Regions from separate parts of the Homo sapiens genome. Here region 2 is linked to region 1. Evidence: fine-mapped expression QTL. A gene starts in region 1. The other region holds a variant in brackets. All regions are shown on one strand. Distances are between the middles of the regions. Region 1 holds the start of PRRX2 (paired related homeobox 2). Region 2 overlaps PRRX2 (paired related homeobox 2).

Evidence for each region. PIP is the estimated chance that this variant, and not a neighbour inherited with it, causes the effect.
Region 2: its variant is the best candidate, but not a certain one, in a credible set for the expression of PRRX2 in fibroblasts (GTEx, PIP 0.51).

What each region holds. Positions count from the first base shown.
Region 1 is chr9:129,659,124-129,669,636 of GRCh38, forward strand. PRRX2 (paired related homeobox 2) reads left to right here and starts at 6,524. Exons shown (of 4, transcript NM_016307.4): 1 at 6,524-7,003. The coding sequence starts at 6,745. RefSeq lists an enhancer at 10,035-10,513.
Region 2 is chr9:129,692,735-129,703,247 of GRCh38, forward strand. All of the region lies in intron 1 of PRRX2 (paired related homeobox 2), which reads left to right. Among named protein-coding and RNA genes, the nearest start is that of PRRX2-AS1, 21 kb to the right of the region's middle. The variant A/T (reference allele first, on the strand shown) is at 4,272.

The sequences.
Region 1 (10,513 bases):
AGAGTGCTCGCTCTGTCTCAAAAATAAATAAATAAATAAATAAAACACAAATTGATTATCTTAGCTTTCTTGGAGTCAGAAGTCCCGGGCTACAATCCAGGGGCTGGCGGGGCTGTATTTCCTTCTGGATTCTGTTTCCTGCTTTTTCCAGCTCCTGGAGGCTACCTGCGTTCCTTGGCTTGTGGCTGCCTTCCTCCATCTTCAAAGCCAGCAACAGCCAATAGAGTCTTTCTCACATCACATCACTCCGACAGCAACTCTGCTGCCTCCCTTTTCCACTTGTGATTACTATATGGGGCCCAGCCAGATAATCCAGAACAATTCTCCAGTGTTAAAGTCAGCCGATAGGCAGGCTTAATTCCATCTGTTACCTTAATTCCCCTTTAACACATTCATGGGTCCCAGGGATTATGATATAAACACCTTTGGAAGGTCATTATTTGCCCACCACAGCCTATTCTAGGTATTTATTCTTTGTGTGTGTGTGTGTGTGTGTGTGTGTGTGTGTGTGTGTGTGTGTGTGTGTGTGATGGAGTCTCGCTCTGTTGCCCAGGCTGGAGCGCAGTGGCGCGACCTCGATTCACTGCACACTCCGCCTCCCGGGTTCACGCCATTCTCCTGGCTCAGCCTCCCAAGTAGCTGGGACTACAGGCGCCCGCCACCACGCCCGGCTAATTTTTTTGTATTTTTAGTAGAGACGGGGTTTCACCGTGTTAGCCAGGATGGTCTCGATCTCCTGACCTTGTGATCTGCCCGCCTCGGCCTCGCAAAGTGCTGGGATTACAGGCGTGAGCCACCGCGCCCGGCCATTCTAGGTATTTATTCTTAAGAAAATAACGGTGTGGCCAGGCGCGGTGGCTCACGCCTATAATCCCAGCACTTTGGGAAGCCAAGGTGGGCGGATCACCTGAGGTCAGGAGTTCCAGACCAGCCTGACCAACATGGAGAAACGCCGTCTCTACTAAAAAGTACAAAAATTAGCTGGGTGTGGTGCTGTATGCCCGTAATCTCAGCTACTCCGGAGGCTGTGGCAGGAGAATCGCTTGAACCTGGGAGGCAGATGTTGCAGTAAGCCGAGATTGTGCCATTGCACTCCAGCCTGGATGACAGAGACAGAGTGAGACCCCCTGTTCAAAAAAAACAAAAACAAACAAACAAAAAAAAAAAACAAAGAAAGAAAGAAAGAAAAGGAAAGGAAAAAGCAAATGGGGAAACTGAAGCCTAAAGAGTTTAGGAGCCTTAACGAAAGCCCATAGTGGCCGGGCGTAGTGGTTCACACCTGTAATTCCAGCACTTTGGGAAGACGAGGTGGGCGGATCACCTGAGGTCAGGAGTTCAAGACCAACCTGACCAACATGGAGAAACCCCATCTCTACTAAAAAATACAAAAATTAGCTGGGCATGGTGGTATATGCCCGTAATCTCAGCTACTCGGGAGGCTGAGGCAAGAGAATCACTTGAACCTGGGAGGCAGAGGTTGTGGTGAGCCGAGATTACGCCATTGCACTCCAGCCTGGGCAACAAGAGCAAAACTCCATCTCAAAAAAAAAAGGAAAAAGTCTTGAACGCCTCGTGTGTGTGTTAAGGCCTTTTAGGAATGGGTTATAGGTGATTTTTATTCTCTTAATTCTAATGATGCTTTCTAAAATCTCAACCATAACATATTACTTTTGCAATAAGAAAAGTTACCTTTTCATTTTTAACATGTGAGCTTTTGAGACTGGGGCAAATATGAGTTTTCACTGAAGGTCAGACCTAGAACTTAGCCTCAAATGGAACCACCAGTGAATAATCAGCTCCTTCTCCGCGAATCCCATCTGGTGAGCAGGGGCCCTCTTTCTTTCCCTTCCCTTTCTCCCTGGCTGGCTGCAGTGCCCGGCTCAGTAACCACAAGTTGATCTGAGAGGTTCTGAATGGGAATCCTATTTGCCCTCCATTTCCTCTTCTGGGTTAGCCTCTCAGATTTATCAAAATCATCATGAAATGATTTATTTTTAGCCATATCCCTTTGGGGTGATGAGTCCCTGAGTTCTGCCCTCCTGGGATTCCCTGGAGTTTCCTTGGGTGTATTCCCAGGCTGGATCAGAGCTGACGCTCATGCTCAGCAGGTTATAAAACAGGAGGTAAACATACTTCCACTTTTATAACATAGGACTATAGTATACAATCCTAAACATAAAACTATATGTAGGACTGTATATTATAGAACTTTCTTCATCTCTCTAGATATATAGAGATAAGCTACAAAGATATATTCGAATTATTTTTAGTTCATCCCTTTTTCTTGTCTTATTGCTTTCTTGTCTTATTGCACAGTGCAGCAGTCTATGCCCTTTGCCCCACCCTTCCATCCCTGCCCCAACCCCAGCCCTTATCCCCAGGCTGGGCAAGGGAATAGGCAGCAACAATAATGATGGTAAATCCACAAGAACCCTTTGGATTGGCTCCTCTACTATTCCTATTTTACAGACGATGGGACAGACTCAGGGAGGATGGGCAAGTGACATATTCAAGGCCACGCAGCCAGTAAATGGCAGTGGGTAGATTCATACCCATGTCCCTCAGCTGCACAGTCCGAGTTCACCATCCTTGCCCTGTCTACTTCTCAGAACATATGTTTATTTTATTTGTTTTATGTATTTATGTATTTATTTATTTTTTGAGACAGAGTTTCACTCTTGTTGCCCAGGCTGCAGTGCAATGGCGAGATCTTGGATCACTGCAACCTCTGCCTCCCGGGTTCAAGCAATTCTCCTGCCTCAGCCTCCTGGGTAGCTGGGATTACAGGTGCCCGCCACCACACCCAGCTAATTTTTTGTATTTTTAGTAGAGATGGGGTTTCACCATGTTGGCCAGGCTGGTCTCAAACTCCTGACCTCAGGTGATCTGCCCGCCTCAGCCTCCCAAAGTGCTGGGATTACAGGCATGAGCCACTGCGCCCAGCCAGATATTTAAAAAATAATCATTGTTAACATGTATTAAATGCTCACTAGGTACCAGGTGTCCTTTATTTATACATTGGTTTATTTAATCCTCCTAACAGCTCATTTTCTTTTTCTTTTTCTTTCTTTCTTTTTTTTTTTTTTTTTGAGATAGGGTCTCTTTATCTGCTGACCTTCCCTCCACTATTGTCCTATGACCCTGCCAAATCCCCCCCTGCGAGAAACACCCAAGAATGATCAATAAATACTAAAAATAAATAAATAAATAAATAAAATTAAATTAAAAAAAAAAGAGAGATAGGGTCTCACTCTGCTGCCCAGGCTGGAGTGCAGCGGTGCCATCACAGCTCACTGTAGCTCAACCTCCCAGGCTCAAGCAATCCTCCGATCTCAGCCTCCAAGTAGCTGGGGACTATAGGCATGCATTGCCACACCAGCTACTTTTTTTTTCTAGAGATGAGGTCTCACTATGTTGCCCAGGCTGGTCTTGTACTTCTGGGCTCAAAAGATCCTCCTACCTCAGCCTCCCAAAGTGCTGGGATTACAGGCCTGAGCCACCACACCCAGTCAGCTCATTTTACATTTAAGGCCCCCAAGAGAAAGAGGCTAAATAGATTGCTCAAAGCTCAGGCAAGGTCTTGATCTGCACCCAGGAGGCTGGTGCCAGACAGCCATCATGCTACAGAGATGGAGTTACCTCTCAACATGTGTAGGATGAGTAATTGCAGGAGTGAGTGGAAGAAGCCACTGTGGCCACTGGCCATGCCGAGAGATCGGAACACTGCGCTTCCCAGCTCTGGGCCTCGCATTGCTGATCTGTAAAACAAAAGGGCTTAAACCAAACAATTTCCATGGTTCTCCCAGCTCCAGAAGAGCTTTCACCTTTTTTTGGCCTCAGTTTTCCCATCTGTCTTCCAAGGGAATGATCTAGATGATCCCTCAGGCCCTTTGACTGCACAGGCCAATGTCAACAGTACCCTCTGTGTGTTCCAGGCCATGGGCCCAGAAGTTCACCTACTATGGAGTCCCCATTGTGCCCAGGAGACAGGCTCTTCATTAGGCGCCTTCCACTGTCAGGGAGCTGGGGCTTGGAGAGGGGAGGTGCTGATTTTTTTTTTGAGATGGAATTTTGCTCCTGTTGCCCAGGCTGGAGCACAGTGGCGCGATCTCGGCTCACTGAAACCTCCTCCCAGGTTCAAGCGATTCTCCTGCCTCAGCCTCCCGAGTAGCTGGGATTACAAGTGCATGCCACCATGCCCAGGTAATTTTTGTATTTTTAGTAGAGATGGGGTTTTGCCATGTTGGCCAGGCTGGTCTCAAATTCCTGACCTCAGGTGATCCACCTACCTCGGCCTCCCAAAGTGCTGGGCTTACAGACGTGAGCCACCACGCCCGGCCAAGGTGCTGAATTTGAGGCCACATGGCAGTAGGGGCATAGCTGGGGCTGGAACCCTGTCTCCAACACAAAACTGTTCTGCCTCTGGGATGAAGCCTCTACTCAGTGGGCTGTGCTTTTCCTGGGTAAGACCCCTCCACTCTGAGGGTTTTGCTGGGTGCAGGGGCAGGGTCCTCCCAGACATCCTGAGCCCAGTAGTGGCCCTACCCTGCTCGGTTCCTCAGAAAGTGGTTCAGCCACACACACTGTGGGCAGCACTGGGTATGCCCTGGTGCCCAGACTGGGCTCCTCCCAGCCGCCTAGGATGAGGGAGACTGGCGCCTCTTTGCTGGCCTTTCTTGCTGGACACTCCTTGGAGCAGAGGTCCAAGGACGGAGAACCCCGTCATCTCCAAACCCTCCCTACCCATGTGTGCACCTGCACGGATTGCTGTGGCTAAAGACACTTCAGGGACACTCGGCCTCATTTTTTAAATTATTATTTCTTATTTAATTTAATTTATATATATTTTTTGAGATGGAGTTTCACTCTTGTTGCCCAGGCTGGAGTGCAATGGCGTGATTTCGGCTCACTGCAACCTCCGCCTCCCAGGTTCCAGCTATTCTCCTGCCTCAACCTCCCCAGTAGCTGGGATTACAGGCGCCTGCCACCATGCCCAGCTAATTTTTTTTATTATTATTATTTTTAGTAGAGACAGGGTTTCACCATGTTAGCCAGGCTGGTCTCGAACTCCTGACCTCAGGTGATCCACCCACCTCAGCCTTCCACAGTGCTGGGATTACAGGCGTGAGCCACTGTGCCCGGCCTACTCGGCCTCATTTTGAAGTCGATTCCTTTCCAGCGCGGGAGGGGGTGGGGGCGGACACAAACAACACACGCTGTGAGGATTAATGTATTATAATGTATTGCTAGGCTTTCCTTAAAAATAGTGTTCCCGGCTGGGTGCGGTGGCTCACGCCTGTAATCCCAGCACTGTGGGAGGCCGAGGCAGGTGGATCACCTGAGGTCAGACGCTGGAAACCAGACTGGCCAACATGGTGAAACCCCTCCTCTACTAAAAATACAAAAATTACCCGGGCATGGTGATGCACACCTGTAATCCCAGCTACTCGAGAGGCTGAGGCAGGAGAAGCGCTTGAAGTCAGGAGGCGGAGGTTGCAGCGAGCCGAGATCACGACACTGCACTCCAGCCTGGGCGACAGAGCCAGACTCTTGTCTCAAAAAAATAAAAATAAATAATAATAATAAATAATAAATAAAAATAATGGTCCGCAGGCTTTCAGGGATGTGTGCGGGCCGGTTTTCCATATGGGAACAGGGAAAGGATGTGCTGAAGGCTTCCTCCGGTAGGCGACTTTGGCTGATGTGACTTTATGCCTCGTAGTGAGGGCAGGGCGACAGAGGGACGGGCCGGTGAGCGGCTGTCCTGGAGAAAGAGCAGTGGCATCCGGGGGGCTTAGGGTCTCAGGTCTGCTCACTCCGCACATCTTTTCTGTGCTTTCATTGAAAAACAAAACTGAAACAAGAGCGGACACCTAAGTCTGCCTCTCTCTTTCCTGTCACCCGTCTCAGGCTGGCTGTCCTCTGTGTGTGCGCCAGGAATTCTGCAACGAAGCGCCTGCCTCTCCGCTTGGTTTTCCTTGGGGAAGGGCCTGGGGCCTCCTGGGGGGTGGGCACCGGGTGTGTGGGTGTGTGTGGGGGACCTGGCAGGGAGCAGCGGGGGAGAGGCGGGGTGGGGGGTCGCGTACACCCCAGGAGCCTGAGGATGCGCTGCCTGCTGGGAGAGACAGCCTTGGGGCGGGTGGTGTGCACAGAGCTCTGTCGGCCAGCGCGGGCGGGCGGGGCCGTTGTTGGGGGCGCTGAGGCGAGTGAGGCTGGAGCTGGGAGTGGGGGGCTCGTCGCCTTCGTCTCTGGGCCGCCCCCTCCACCTGCGGAGGCGATTGTAAAGGGAAGGGGGGAATCCCTCTGCCATCACCTCCCAGATACTTGGGGGATGGAAAACGACAAAACACGGAACCTCCCACTCCCTAAAAAGTGGGTGGGGAGGGTGAAGGGAGGACACCCCTTCCCCGCCCCCAGCGCCAGCAGCCGGGGTGGGGGCGGGCGAGGCGCGCGGGGAGGAGAGGGCGGAGGAGAGGACGGGGGGCGAGGTTTGCTTCAAGAAGGGGCGTGTGGCCGGCGCAGCGCGTGCACCAGCGGCTCCGGAGCGAGCGGCCGTGGCTGAGAAGGGGAGGGCGGAAAGTTTGTTTCCCCGACGTCAGCGCCGGGCGGGCCGCGAGGCTAGGAGGCGGCGGGAGCTGGGCAGAGCGCGGGGCGGCCGGGGCTCTCGCTCCGACCCGCGCCCGCGACCCTTCCTGGGACCCGAGCCCGAGACCCCCGCCGGCCCCCCCGGGGCCGCTCGCGGGCATGGACAGCGCGGCCGCCGCCTTCGCCCTGGACAAGCCGGCGCTGGGCCCGGGGCCGCCGCCGCCTCCACCCGCGCTGGGGCCCGGCGACTGCGCCCAGGCGCGCAAGAACTTCTCGGTGAGCCACCTCCTGGACCTGGAAGAGGTGGCGGCGGCCGGGCGGCTGGCGGCGCGCCCCGGGGCCAGGGCCGAGGCGCGGGAGGGCGCAGCACGGGAGCCGTCCGGGGGCAGCAGCGGCAGCGAGGCGGCGCCGCAGGATGGTGAGTACGGCCGGCCAGGGACGGGGGTGGCGGGGCCGGGGCCGGGGCCGGGGCCGGGGCGCGGGGTCCGGGGAGCCGGCGCGGGGCGGGCGAAGATGCAGGGCGCGTGGTCGGCGGCAGGACTTCTGGGGGCGCGTGTAAGTGACGGTGGACGGCGGTTGACCAGCACTCTGGGCTGGGGGAGGGGGACCCTCTTCGGGTCTTGGGGTGCGTCCCCACGGGGAAGTGCGCTGCCTTCGCTCCCCAGTATTCGGCTCCCGAACAGCCTGGGAAGTGGGTGTGGCTGCTGCCGGGTTACAACTGGGGAAACAGAGACCTGAGTCGGGCAAAGCCGCTGAGCTGCACGTTGGGGTTTCAAACCCGCCCCCTCCCGCACGAGCTAGCGCCGCCCCAGCTCCTCCTCGGTCTTAAGTTGGGCTCTTTGGGGGGCGAGGGTGCCTGCCCACCCCCCCCCACCCTCCAGTTTGCCCCGGGAGCAGCTGCCTCGGTGGAACGGCCCAGCCAGGCCTCTCTTCCCCGGCAGAGGTCAAAGGTCATCAGGAAGGGGCTTTAAAAACAAACAACCCACCCAAGTGGCCTTTTTCAAAAAGTGACACAGGATGGCAGGGTCCTGAGCCCTTGGTAAGAAGGGGAGGGACGGGGAGAAGATGGAGAAAAAGCAAAGGCCCCAGCCCCGGACGGTTCAGTGGGGGAGGGGAGGACCGGAGTCCTCGCGGCTCAGCACACACTAAGGATGGGGGCCCGGTGATCTGAAACCAGGCCCCTGTCCCCTAGCTCTGGGGATGGGCCGGCCTGCTGGGGGCTCTGGGCCCCTGAAGTGTGCCCGCCTGACTCCAGCAGCCCTCCCACCCGCCCCGGGGGACCCTGTTCCCGGCACCAGCCTCCAGGTCTCAGGGTGCCCAGGCTGGTGGCTGCGTTCCTTGGCTTTTCAGAGACAGGAGGTGCAGGGAAAACAGAGGTGGCTGCAGCCTAGTCTGAATCCATGTGCGTCCACGAGGACGCCTGCGACACGCCTGCCTTTCACGGGGCACCTTCTGCCAGCCTGTGGCTGAGATGAAGCCACTGGCTCCCTCATGGCAGCGGCCACCACTCACTGGCCACAGTGGACTGGCCACTGGCTGCACCCTCCGGGGTGAGTGTGAAGCCAGCAGACCTCCCAGGAGTTGGGGTTTAGCTCCTCAGTAGAAAAGGGGAGGGAGATGTCCACTCTGGCCCGGAGGAAAGCAGGTGCCCTCTGGTTTGTGCTGGGGGAATGCCCTGCCGGCCCAAGGTCATTTGAGGACCTCAGCGGCTCTGAGCCGGTCCCCCAACCCCAGGACAGAGGAGAGGTCCCGGTTTACCCTGATGAAGGGAGACTCCAGGGGTTGGGAAGAGAAGGAGGAACAACTTGAAGGTGAAGGGAAAGAAGGAAAGGAGAAGGCAAGGAAAGGAGAGAGAGAGGGAGGAGAGACAGAGGAAGAGGAAGGAAGGGAGAGGAGAGAGGGGTGAGGAGGGAAGGAAGGGGGCCAGGGTGTCTCGTACTCCAGTCCTGGCCAGGGGACGGCCTGCCCATTTCTGACCTACCCCTGCTGTGGGGACAGCCAGGGAAGGCCGTGCTTCTCCCGGACACGGTGTTGGAGGTCTCTGGTGGCGGGTTTCCCCGGGGATCCCAGAACAGCTAGTGTCAGCTGGGGATGTGGGCGCCTAGACAAGGCCCTTGGCAGCCTCCAGGCAGCTGGGTGTGCAGTGGGTCTCCCCAGCAGCTCCCTGGGGCTAGCCACCCTCCTGGAGAGCCCATGAGGCCTCCAGGCCTTCTCCTAAGAAGGGGCATTGGCACACTGGGAGTACCCAGGCATGCTTGGGACACACTGGGTGTGGGATCAGGTGGGGTGGGGTCTGGGCCAGGCTCCAGGAGGCGCTCGTGGGCTGGTCCGTCTTGGAAGCTGCCTAGCTCTGCCCTGAGGACGATGGAGCCCTGGCAGGGAGAGTCCCTGGGCTCCGCCCGGGGTGTGGCCCGGATCTGGGTCTACAGGCAGAAGGTGGAGAGAGGGGACTGCAGGGCAGGCGCCAGTTTCCAACTCATCCATCTGGGTCAGGCGGCCCCACCACTGCCACTTGCTGTGGACTCCCAAGTCCTGAAGGCTCCAAAGGTGGGGGAGATGGGATCCTTCTTTCCCCATCATCGACCCTTTGAAAGTGGGCAGCCAAACCTTGCTGGGCTTGCCGGGACTGCAGACCCCAGGCCAGTGGGCTGAGTCTTGGGTTGCGGCATCATCCTCCAGTCCTGGACATACAGGAGCCCGGTCCCCTCACCACGGATCCAGACATGCTTGGAGGTGGGTTTTCCTGTGGCTCTTGGAGTTGTTTTCAGGTCCAAAGAAAGATGGTCTGGCCGGGGGCGGTGGCTCACACCTGTAACCCCAGTGCTTTGGGAGGCTGAGGTGGTTGGATCACTAGAGGTCAGGAGTTTGAGACAAGTCTGGCTAACATGGTGAAACCCCATCTCTACTAAAAATACAAAATTAGCCGGGTGTGGTGGTGCATGCCTGTAATCTCAGCTACTGGAGAAGCTGAGACAGGAGAATCCCTTGAACCCGGGAGGCGGAGGTTGCAGTGAGCCAAGATTGCACCACTGCACACTCCAGCCTGGGCAACAGAATGAGACTCCATCTCAAAAAAAAAAAAAAAAAAAAGAAAGAAAGAAAAGAAAAGAAAGAGATGGCACCAAAGAGGGAGTGCCCCCATTAGAAAAATAAGGGTTAGCCAGGTGCAGTGGCTCACACCTGTAATCCCAGCACTTTGGGAGGCTGAGGCAGTTGGATCACAAGGTCAGGAGTTCAAGACCAGCCTGGCCAAGATAGTGAAACTGCATCTCTACTAAAACTACACAAATTAGTCAGGTGTGGTGACAGACGCCTATAATCCCAGCTACTCGGGAGGCTGAGGCAGGAGAAAAAAAAAAGAAAGAAAGAAAGAAAAATAAGGGTTAATGGGGGACACCAATGAGTTAGGAATTAATACGTCTTCAATCTGCTGGGATAGCAGGCTCAAACTTTTTTTAATTTAAAAATTTTTGTTTGCACAAAGCCACCAGTAGATAAAGCCCGCTACTGCCAATGACTTTCTAAGACCAGGCTCCCTCCAGAAATGGCCGGGAAGACCGTGGCTTCGCCAGTGACTCAGAACAAACCAGGGTCGCGGGTTCCTTCCTCGCCAGTCAAACGCTGAGGGCTGCACCAGGCACGTTAGGAAAACAAACCCTGGTTTGCTGCCTTTGCAATGACTTACAACAAAAGAAACCACATTAATAACTGAGATTTTCTCTAAAGCATTCCCTCCTGTGGGCAGAGTGGAAACGGGGACGTGGACACACTGGGAAAATAAACAAAGCCCCTAGAGCCAGGCAGGGGTGAGGCCTCTGGCCAGGGAAGGCTGGGCGGCCAGTGCTCAGGGCTGGTACCTGCTTTGGAAAACCCCAGGATTCACTGCAGGAGAAACCTTGGGATCCCACGTGGATTCATTTTCCAGAGA
Region 2 (10,513 bases), 34 kb after region 1:
CCTTTTTTCAGTGCTGAGTAATATTCCTTTGTCTGGATGTAGCACAGTTTATCCATTCACCTACTGGAGGACGTGTTAGTTGCTTCTAAGTTTTGGCAATTATGAACAGAGCTGCTATAAACATCCCTGGGCAGGCCTTTTTGTGGACAGAAGTTTCCACCTCATTTGGGTAGGAACCAAGGAGTGTGATGGCCAAATCGTACGGTAAAAGTATGTTTAGTTTTGTAAGAAACGGCCAAGCTGTCTTCCAAAGTGGCTGTACCATTTCGCATTCTCGCCAGCAGTGGATGAGAGTTCCTGTTGCCCCACATCTTCGCCAGCATTTGGTTGTCAGTGTTCTGGATTCTGGGCATTCTAATAGCCGTGTGGTGGTATCTCACTGTAGTTTTAATTTGCATTTCCCCAGTGATACAAGATACGGTGTATCTTTCATATGCTTACTTGCCATCTGTCTGTCTTTTTGGTGAGGTGTCTGCTCAGGGCTTCCGTCCATTTTAAAATCAGGTTGTTTATAATTTAATCTGCTAAAGAAGTTTTCTCATGGTAGATAGTCTTTTAAAAAAAATAGATTGTTCTCAGCTGGGTGCGGTGGCTCACACCTGTAATCTTAGCACTTTGGGAGGCCAAGGCGGGCGGATCACCTGAGGTCAGGAGTTCAAGACAAGCCTGGCCAACATGGCGAAACCCCGTCTCTACTAAAAATACAAAAATTAGCTGGGCATGGTGGTGGGTGCCTGTAATCCCAGCTACTTGGGAGGCTGAGGCTGGAGAATCACTTGAACCCAGGAGGCAGAGGTTGCAGTGAGCTGAGATCACGCTATTGCACTCCATCCAGCCTGGGCGACAAGAGCGAAACTCTGTCTCAAAAAAAAAAAAAAAAAAGATCGTTCTTTTGGGGCAAAACTCGCCTTGCCATCATTACTGGTTAATACAGTATTTATGTGCAGGAGGAAGAATATTGTCCCTATTGGAAATATGTCCAGAGAGGTTGGATAATTTTTCCTGCCACCACCAAGGCCTTGGAAGAGGGACGAGGGTTTGCCTCCTGGCAATGCCACATTGCTGCTTGTTTATTTTAAAAGGCAGAATTGAACATCATTCTCTTCAAATGTCTTTCTGTGGTCTATGTGGAACTTCCCAAAATGAGCGTGTCAAGGGACAAGGGATGGTAAGACGATGCCACACGTGACATAGTTTGCTGTGTCCTTGGAGGTAGAAAGGGCCCCCAGCAGGGAGTGAAGGCAGAGTCCTTGCTTGGGGTTTTTCTGAAGCTCTTCCTGAGCCCATGGCAGACGAAGCTCATCCACCAGAGACCCTCCGAATCCTCCACAACACAGGGTTCTAAGCAGCTACTAGCAGGCGATCAGGAGTGGCAGGGAAATGACACCATGAGCCAGCCCCGGCCTGAGTGTGCTCAAAAACACCCCACGTCTCCCCTTTAATTTTCTAAGACAGTCTCCCTCTGTGGCCCAGGCTGGAGTGCGGTGGCCTGATCCTGGCTCACTGCAACCTCTGCCTCCTGGATTCAAGCCATTCTCCTGCCTCCCTGGATTCAAGCCATTCTCTCAGCCTCCCGACTAGCCGGGACTATGGGTGTGTGCCACCATGCCCGGCTAACTTGTGTATTTTTAGTAGAGATGGGTTTTTGCCATGTTGGCTGGGCCAGTCTCCAACTCCTGACCTCAAGTGATCCGCCCGCCTCGGCCTCCCACAGTGCTGGGATTATGGGCATAAGCCACCGTGTCCAGCCCTTCAGAAGTCCCTTCTGACTCTGACATTCTGTGCTGGCTGCCTCCTGGGGAGAAGGTGAAGGGAGATTCATGCGTGCTCGGCAGGGAGGCAGCGCGGTTCAGGGGTTGGAAGCTTGGGTGCTGGAATCTGGTGCATCAGGATGTGGATGAGTCCCAGTTCTTCCACCAACTGGCTGTGTGGCCTTAGAGAAGTCACTTGACCCCACAGATCCTGTTTCTTCCTCTTGTTAATACTTGCTTCCTGGGTTTGCAGGTGTGAGGATTCCTCCAAGCTCTGTGTGTGTGTGTGTTTAAAGTACCTGGCACATAGGGGAGTCCATGGGGGGCAGCGGAGGGAGCCCCATTCAGAATAGTGATAAACACTATGATGTGTGCCATGACCCTAGTGGTCCAACGAAGGCTTCATGGCTGGGCCAGCCTTCTGGCCTGGGGGATTCAGCCACCATCCCCTCTCATCAGCCCCCCAAGACCCACTTGCCTGCAGCTTCCAGATGAAAGGGCTCACCATGGAGGAGGAATGGGGCGAGCTGCAGGCTGGCTCAGAGGGGTCTGGGGGCAGGGTCCCAGTACCCACTGATTAATCTTTTGGGGTCACCTAGCAGTCCAGGGAGAACCCCAACACCCCACAGGCAAGTGGCTGGACCTGGCCAAGGCCAGGGCCTCATGAAGATCCAGGGTCATTCTAGAAGTTCTAGGAGGATTATTCCCTTCTCCACCCCACAGTCCGTGAGTGTGGATAGGTGGCCCGTAATCAACACTCCCTCCAGAGGTTTCTGGCTAAGGGGGACAGAGGAGAGGCCATGGAGGAGAAGGAAAGGCAAGAGGACAGAGTTCTGTGACCTGAAATTGCCACCAGCTGTCTTTAGCCCCAGAGGAAACTGTCTTTTCAAAGAGAGAGGCTGCGGAAATGGCAGATGCTTGAAGAATCAGCTTCCCTCCAAATTCCCGGTCTCTTGCTCTGGGCTTTACTTGACCAATGTGCTTCTTTGGTTTGGTTTTTATACACCCCACAGCCTTGTTGTGTTTACCCCCTTTTCAGGCCTGCTGGGGAAGGGCTCAGTCTTAGCCTGGCACAGAGCTGGGAGCCGGGCCGGGAGCCCCCAGCTGGCAGGCACCTCCCTTTCCTGGCCCACGCTGCTCTTCCTCCAGGCCCCCGCCACCCCAAACCTTTAACAGGAGACTTGGCTGGGAAGTCAAAAGGACTTTCCCGCTGCTTTCAGATGCTTAGGCACATTCACCAGGCCATTATGGGCCTCACTACCTTTAGGCGGGGAACTTTTTAAAAGTGAGTTTTTTTTCTAAAATCCAGAATTTCTGACAGCCCAAGTTAACAAGCCCCCACAAGTGAATTCAGAGAGCATTAACGGGAAAGTTCTAAACAGAACCTCTGCTGTCATGTAAGCAGCTCAGAAAAAAACACTCTTCTCCCATTTTAAGGGTGAACATGGCACTTTGATGTGGCCCCATTTCCTTATAAAGCCCCCTCTGAGAAGGCGGAAAGCTGAAGTTTAATCTGGAGCCAACAAATTACTTGGAATTTGCAAGCACACATGCTTAGCCCATAGGAGCTAAAGTCCACAGTAAAAGAAAGAAAACGAAAAAAAAAAGAAAGGTGGGGTAGGGAGTCACAGAAGGAGAGAAAGGGAGGAAGACAAAACCCACCTCCACTCACCAACTGGCTAAGACTCAGATGTATTATCATGGAATCTAGTGTGGGGGGTCCTAATGCTCACAGCCCCCTTTTCAAAACGAAAACAAGCCACATACCCCTGAATAGTAGAATGGTACTTCTAAAGCAGGGCACCTTGGCTGGGCACGGTGGCTCACGCCTGGAATCCCAGCACTTTGGGAGGCTGAGGCGGATGGATCGCTTGAGCCCAGGGGTTAGGCACCAGCCTGGGCAACATGGTGAAACCCCGTCTCTACAAAAAATACAAAAATTGGCCAGGCGTGGTAGTGGGCGCCTGTAATTTCAGCTACTCTAGAGGCTCAGGTGGGAGGATCGCTTAAGCCTGAGAGTTCAAGGCTGCAGCGGAGCCCAGATCGCGCCGCTGCACTCCAGCCTGCGCCACAGAGTTAGACCCTGTCTCGAAAAAAATAATAGTAATAATAATTTTTAAAAAATACATTTTATAAAGCAAAGCTACCCTCGGTTCCCGGTTTGATAAGGGGTGGATTCCAAATAAGCAGCTGTCTTGCCGCCTTGCCAAGGGAAAGGAGCTGGGCAAATTCCTGCAGAGTCCCCACAAAGCTTCACTTTCCCCAGATGCTTGGGTGGGAGGACCCTCGCTAAGGGATCAAGGTTGCAGGTGCAGAGGGGGTCCCTGACAGAGGGAGGGCAAGGGAGGGGCGCCCCGGGTGAAGGTGACTTTGAGTTCCAGGTGTGTGGGCTAGCAGTTGAAGAGGGGGTGCAGCGCGGACCCCCCTGGGGCCAGAGTCCGATAGACCAGCTGAATGGCCGCTCTGCAGCTTTCTCGCTGTGTGACCTTGGGCGACTGACCTCCCTCCCTAGTCTCGGTT[A/T]TCCCGACTGTTAAACGGGGACGGTAGCAGCAGTACCTGCCTCATAGGGTTACCGTGTGTGGAGACACGCCCATAGGCGCCCGGCCCGGCCTGGCCCTTAGCCTTGGCCTTGGCCGGAGCTGGACACGTAGGAACTGCCTTTGTCACTAATCGGGGGTTGGATTCCCTTGCACTCGGTGCCAGGATAGGAAAGAGCAGTCAGTCCTGGCTCCCACCCGGGACCTGCCTGGAGAGCGGGAGTGGAGAGGGAGGTGTCTGAGCTGGAAGGAAGGCGAGGAGGGAGCTGGCTGGGCTGCAGGGGAGCGCTGCGTCCCGCTCCCCCTCCCCTAGGCCGTGCCCCCTCCCGCCCGGCCGGGGCGCGCACCCTCGGAGCAGCTGGGCGGCGGCGGCGCGGGCAGCGCGGGGCTGGGCGCGGGATCTATTAACGTCTGTGTGTCTGGGCCGCGGGACTGCGGCGAGGCAGGCGCCAGGGGCTCGTCTGGAACCAGATGTGCCGCGGCGCCGCTCTGGCCGCCACCAGCGCGGCGCGCTCGCACGCACTGGCTGGCGCGCACATGGCCGGGCTGGGCGGCGGCGGCTGGCGCGCCGGCCCTGGCATCCCCTGGATTTCGGACCGACCCCAGACCCGCGCGTGCGGAGGGGAGACCCCCGCCCAGCAAGCCAGCTCCCCGTCCAGATGGGAAAGCCACCCACGAGACGGGTGGGGTCCGCCTCGCCCCTCGGCCCTGTCCCGGGGGAGGGAAAGATGGCTTCTCAGAAACCTGCCCCCCTGCTAGCGCCCCCGCTGTCTCCACCCCACAAAGGGCTGGGGACGCTTCCCCGCCCCCCGAAGTTTGTTTTCCTAAGTTTGTGCGTAAGATTTTTCAAAATTCTGAGTCAGAGCTTCCCCTAAGATGAGGCCTTTGGGGCATGCGAGAAACGCCAAAATGTGGGTGGGGGAGGGGAGCGTGGAGGTTGGAGGGTTTTAAGCGCCGGGATTCGGAAGGGGGCTTTTCACCCACTGGGTGAGTACAAGGGCTTCATTGAGGCCGGTCCCAGCTCCGCACCAAATCTGTCTTAACCACAAGGTGGTCCCTGGTCCTGGCTGCTGTCAGCACCGAGCCTTCCCGTCCCCAGGCAGCTTCGGGGTGCTCTGCCTTTCTGGACCAGCCCCTTCAGCTCTCTGGGCCCCCTCGCAGGGCCTATAAAGTGAGCAGTGGAGCTGGGAGCTCCCAGCAGGGGAGCTTAGGAGAAATGGGTGGTTGGATGGGGCGGGGGGGGGGGGGGGCGGGGGCACTTAGGCTCTGTCTCCATGGTTCTCCACCAAAAGGAAGCGTAAGACCAGGCGGTGGTGCTGCCAGGCCGGGCTGGGCCAGGCCAACCCAGTCTGGCTGCAGAGAAGAGGGCTTGCCCAGGGCTTGGGACTCAGCAGTTCCCCGAGTTCCCCCTGGTGTGCAGCCCTTCCCCATGATCGGGAGGAGGGTGTTTGGTGAAACACACGTGGCAAGAGCGGGTTTTTCCCGCCACGCCTGCCTTCCTTGTTCCGGAAAAGGGGAGCTGGGATGCTGGGTAGGGTGGGGGTGTCAGCCATGCACATCAACTCAGAGACTAATCCCTGCTAGGCGCGTGTGGGCAGAGGTTGAGACAACCCAGACTGGGCAGCCAAGGCTTTGGCCATTTGTCAGTACTGGGTGGACGCCCCCTCACGTCACTACCTCACGTCACTACCATCCCATCTGAGGCCCTATGGGCCCACTTCACAGGGAAACAGGCCCAGAGAGGAGCGGTCACAGGCTCAAAGTCACAGAGCTGGGATGTGGAGAAGGTAGGATTCCCACCCTGCCTGCTGGACTCCAGAGATGAAACCTTGGGCTTGGGATCAAATCTTCCTGGTGTCTGGAGGCTCAGGAAACAAGGTGGTTCGTTCCTAAACTCTAGGAAGTAGAGGGAGGATGCTGGCCCAGCTGGAGGGCCATCAGGATAGCCTGACTGTCCCTTCCCTCCCAGGGCATGCTGGAGGCCCTTCCCCACAGGAAGGCCGCTGTGCCTGTTCCTCTGACTATGAGCACCAGCAAAGCCAGGCTGAAGCATTTCCCTGTGGGAGGTGATTTCCCTAGCCCATGCTCTGGCCTGTCAATTAAAAAAATCCATCAATAGGCTGGGCGCAGTGGCTCACGCCCATAATCCCAGAACTTTGGGAGGCCAAGGTGGGCAGATCACTTGAGGTCAGGAGTTCGAGACCAGCCTGGCCAACATGGTGAAACCTCGTCTAAAATATATACACACAAAATTAGCTGGGCGTGGTGGTGCGCACCTGTAATCCCAGTTGCTTGGGAGGCTGAGGTGGGAGAAACACTTAAACCCAGGAGGTGGAAGTTGCAGTGAGCCGAGATCACGCCATTGCACTGCAGCCTGGGCAACAGGGCAAGACTCTGTCTCAAAAAAAATATATATATGTGTGTGTGTGTGTGTGTGTGTGTGTGTGTGTATACATATATCCATCAATATATTAGTTTCTGCAGATAGGAGGGTCCAGAAGTGAGAAGGCTTGTAATGGTGTATAGTGCATACAAATTTTCAGGTGTTTGGGCAAGCAGAGAATTGAGATTATGTTCCCATCAGGAGCCAAAATCCATTCATTCATTCACTTACATATTCATTCAGTATTTATTGAGGACCTGCTATGCATCCGCCCGGAATAAAGAATATCCAGTGTGTGACTGTGCCATGGCTTTCTACATGGTCCAGCCCAGCTTTCTGGGAAGCATCCACGAAGGATGAATTCTTTCCTTGGGCACCTTCAGGGCAGCCTCTGCTCTGTGTGTGTCAGTGCAAGCTTTGGGGAGGAAGTGTCCCAGGGAGCAGAGAACTTGGTCTCTGAGGCACCGACAGCAGCTGTTCAGGAGAGAGACCTCAGCGTGCCAGGCACATGGTTGCTTCTGCCTCTCAGCATCCCAAGTCTCCACCAGACAGTTACAAACCGAGGTCTAGAGAGGTTCAGTAAATTGCCTCAAAGCTGCACAGCCAATATACAGCAAGTGTGGGAGGGGAACGCACACGCACCTAACTCCAGATAAATATACTAATGGCTAACGTGATTTAGCACTTACTACGTGCCAGGCACTGCTTTAAGAACCTTATATATATATTCTTTCATTTAATTTTCACAACAACTCTGGGAGGAAGATCTTGTTATCCCCATTTTCTGGATGGGATAACTGAAGCACAGAGAGGTTGTAACTTCCTCAGGGTCACACAGCAGTGAAGTTGGGATTTGAACTTAGGCAGCCTGCCGCCAGGGTCCAGCTCTTCCTCAGTGGGGTGCTGTATTTTTTTTTGGTTTGTTGTTGTTGTTGGCTTTTTTTTTTTTTTTAGATGAAGCCTCGCTCTGTCGCCCAGGCTGGAGTGCAGTGGCGCAATCTCGGCTCTCCGCCTCCCAGGTTCAAGCGATTCTCTTGCCTCAGGCTCCTGAGTAGCTGGGAGTACAGGCACATGCCACCAAGCCCGGCTAATTTTTGTATTTTTAGTAGTGACGGGGTTTCACCATGGTGGCCAGGCTGGTCTTGAACTCCTGCCTTCAAGTGATCTGCCCGCCTCCGCCTCCCAAAGTGCTGGGATTGCAGAGCCACACCTGGCCGTTATTGTTGTTTTGAGACAGGGTCTGAACCTGTCACCCAGGCTGGAGTGCAGTGGCACAATTGTGGCTCACTGTGACCTTCATCTCCCGGGCTCAAGTGATCCTCCCACTTCAGCCTCCTGAGTTGCTGGGACTACAGGTGCGTGCCACCATGCCCGGCTAATGTTTTAATTTTTTGTAAAGGTGGGGGTTTTGCCATGTTGTCCAGGCTGGTCCCAAACTCCTGGCCTGAAGCGATCCACCCGCCTCAGCCTCCCAAAGTGCTGGGATTACAGGCGTGAGCCACGGTGCTTAGCCAGTACGCCACCTTTTGTGGGCTGGCCTGTTCTGACCAACTTGGTAGCAAAAAGGTTCCTTCTGGAGAGGAGAGCGCTGTTGGAAGAACTTATGTGAAGGATTTGGGGTCTTGAAATCCAGCAGAAGGACAAAGAAATGAGACATTTTTCACAGTGTTTACAATAGAGGAAAATCGCAAGAGACCTAAATATCCCACAAGAGGGGAAGGGCTGTGAGGCCGTTTTGGCATCCCCACTAGGGGAAGTGATGCAGCCGCTCACACTAACGTGAGGAAGAAGATAGGAAACAGAGCAGAGGGTTTAGGATGGAGCTTGAGGGACCATCGTTCACTGTGTGTCGCTCACAGCGGGAAGCAGTCTACCTGCACCATCACATTGACTTCGCTTCATAAAATGGTGAGGTCATGGCAGTCACCAACGCGATAGCTGATGTTACTTGACCACTAACTGGGTGCCAGGTATTGTCGAGGCACTTTAGGTGTTGCTGTTCCCACTTACAGTGGGGACACTGAGTCTCACAGAGCTCACAGAGCTGGCATGGAAAGCCAGAACCAGAATGCAGCTATTTCCAGGAAAGCGGGATATGGTTGGGCAGGTTGTCCACTGCATAACTGCAGGGGACACCAGTCACACTGGAGTCTGTGGGAATGGCACCCCTGAAGTTGTACAGTGCACAGCCTGTGCAACCATACGCAGCATCCCTGGGTGTGTCTGATCACAATCCTAGGCTCTTAATCCATGCCCCATCCAAAACAGAAAATGATATTCATGCACACTGTAAATGGAGTCATGTGATAGCTAGATACATGTGGACATGCAACAAAAAGTATGCAAAGAATTAAACAGATATGCTGTTGTCGTGGGATTTGTAGGAGATTTTTTTCCTTTCAAATGTCCTTAGGCCAGGCGCAGTGGCTCACGCCTGTAATCCCACACTTTAGGAGGCCAAGGCAGGCGGATCACTTGAGGTCAGGAGTTGGAGACCAGCCTGGCCAACATGGTGAAACCCCATCCATACTAAAAATACAAAAAAATTAGTCAGGCCTGATGCCGGGTGCCTGTAATGCCAGCTACTCAGGAGGCTGAGGCAGGAGAATCGCTTGAACCCGGGAGGCAGAGGCTGCCCTGAGCCAGGATCGCACCACTGCACTCCAGCCTGGGCGACAGAGTGAAACTCCGTCTCAAAACTTTCTACGACTGCCAGGCGCGGTGGCTCACACCTGTAATCCCAGCACTTTGGGAGGCTGAGGCGGGTGGATCACGAGGTCAGGAGATCGAGAACATCCTGGCTAACACGGTGAAACCCTGTCTCTACTAAAAATACAAAAGCATTAGCTGGGCATGGTGGTGGGCGCCTGTAGTCCCAGCTACTCGGGAGGCTGAGGCAGGAGAATGGCGTGAACCCGGGAGGCGGAGCTTGCAATGAGCAGAGATCGCGCTACTGCACTCCAGCCTGGGCGACAGAGCGAGACTCCGTCTCAAAAAAAAAAAAAAAACTTTCTAGAACTCTCTGTGATGATGAAAATGTTTCCTATCTGTGCTGTCCAATGTGGCGGCCACTGGCCATGTGTGGATATTGAGCCCTTGAAATGTGGCCTGTTCGACTGAGGAATGGAATTTGTATTTTTATTTCATTTTAATCAGTGAGAATTTCATTGAGATGGCCACGTGCAGCTCGTTGCTCCCACGTTGGACGGTACAGAGCTAGAGTGTGGACTGGTGTCTTTCAGTCTGAGCCATGTCATTCCCAGATGTCTGCTCTGAAGCTTGTGGTTCCTGAACTTGCGGGTGAGGGAGTGTCTACTGCAGATTCCCAGCTGGACCCTTGAGATGGGAGTGTCTGGCTTTAACAAGCTTCCCGGGGAATTCCCAGGCAAATTGTCAGTGGACTCCCTTTTAAGAAATGCGGAAGATGTGGTGCCAGCCTCTTCACGTGGCAAAGTGTGGCAAGGGGGGCGGGGCAGCTCCCAGAGCTGTGGCTGAAATCACCAGAACAGCTGCCCTCAGAGGCTAGCAAGGGGGTCGTTGAGGAATAGAGTCCTGTGTGCTGCCCTTCAAAGTGTAAACACAGCATGTCGTGGGGACCACAGGGAGGTGGACTAGGACCTACTGTAATGGAGAATTTTCTAGAGCCAGGGTTGGCTGTTGTGTGAGGATGTGATTGGAAACATGCTGGAGATGTCGAAGATGGCCCCGTGCCCAGACTCTGAGCATGCACCCCACTGGTGAGGCTGTCCTGGGTGGGGCACAGCAGCTGGTGGGTACCTGGTGGAGGCTGAGACATAGCAGGGGAGCCAGGTGGGTGGGTGTGGGCCGAGCATTCCGACTTG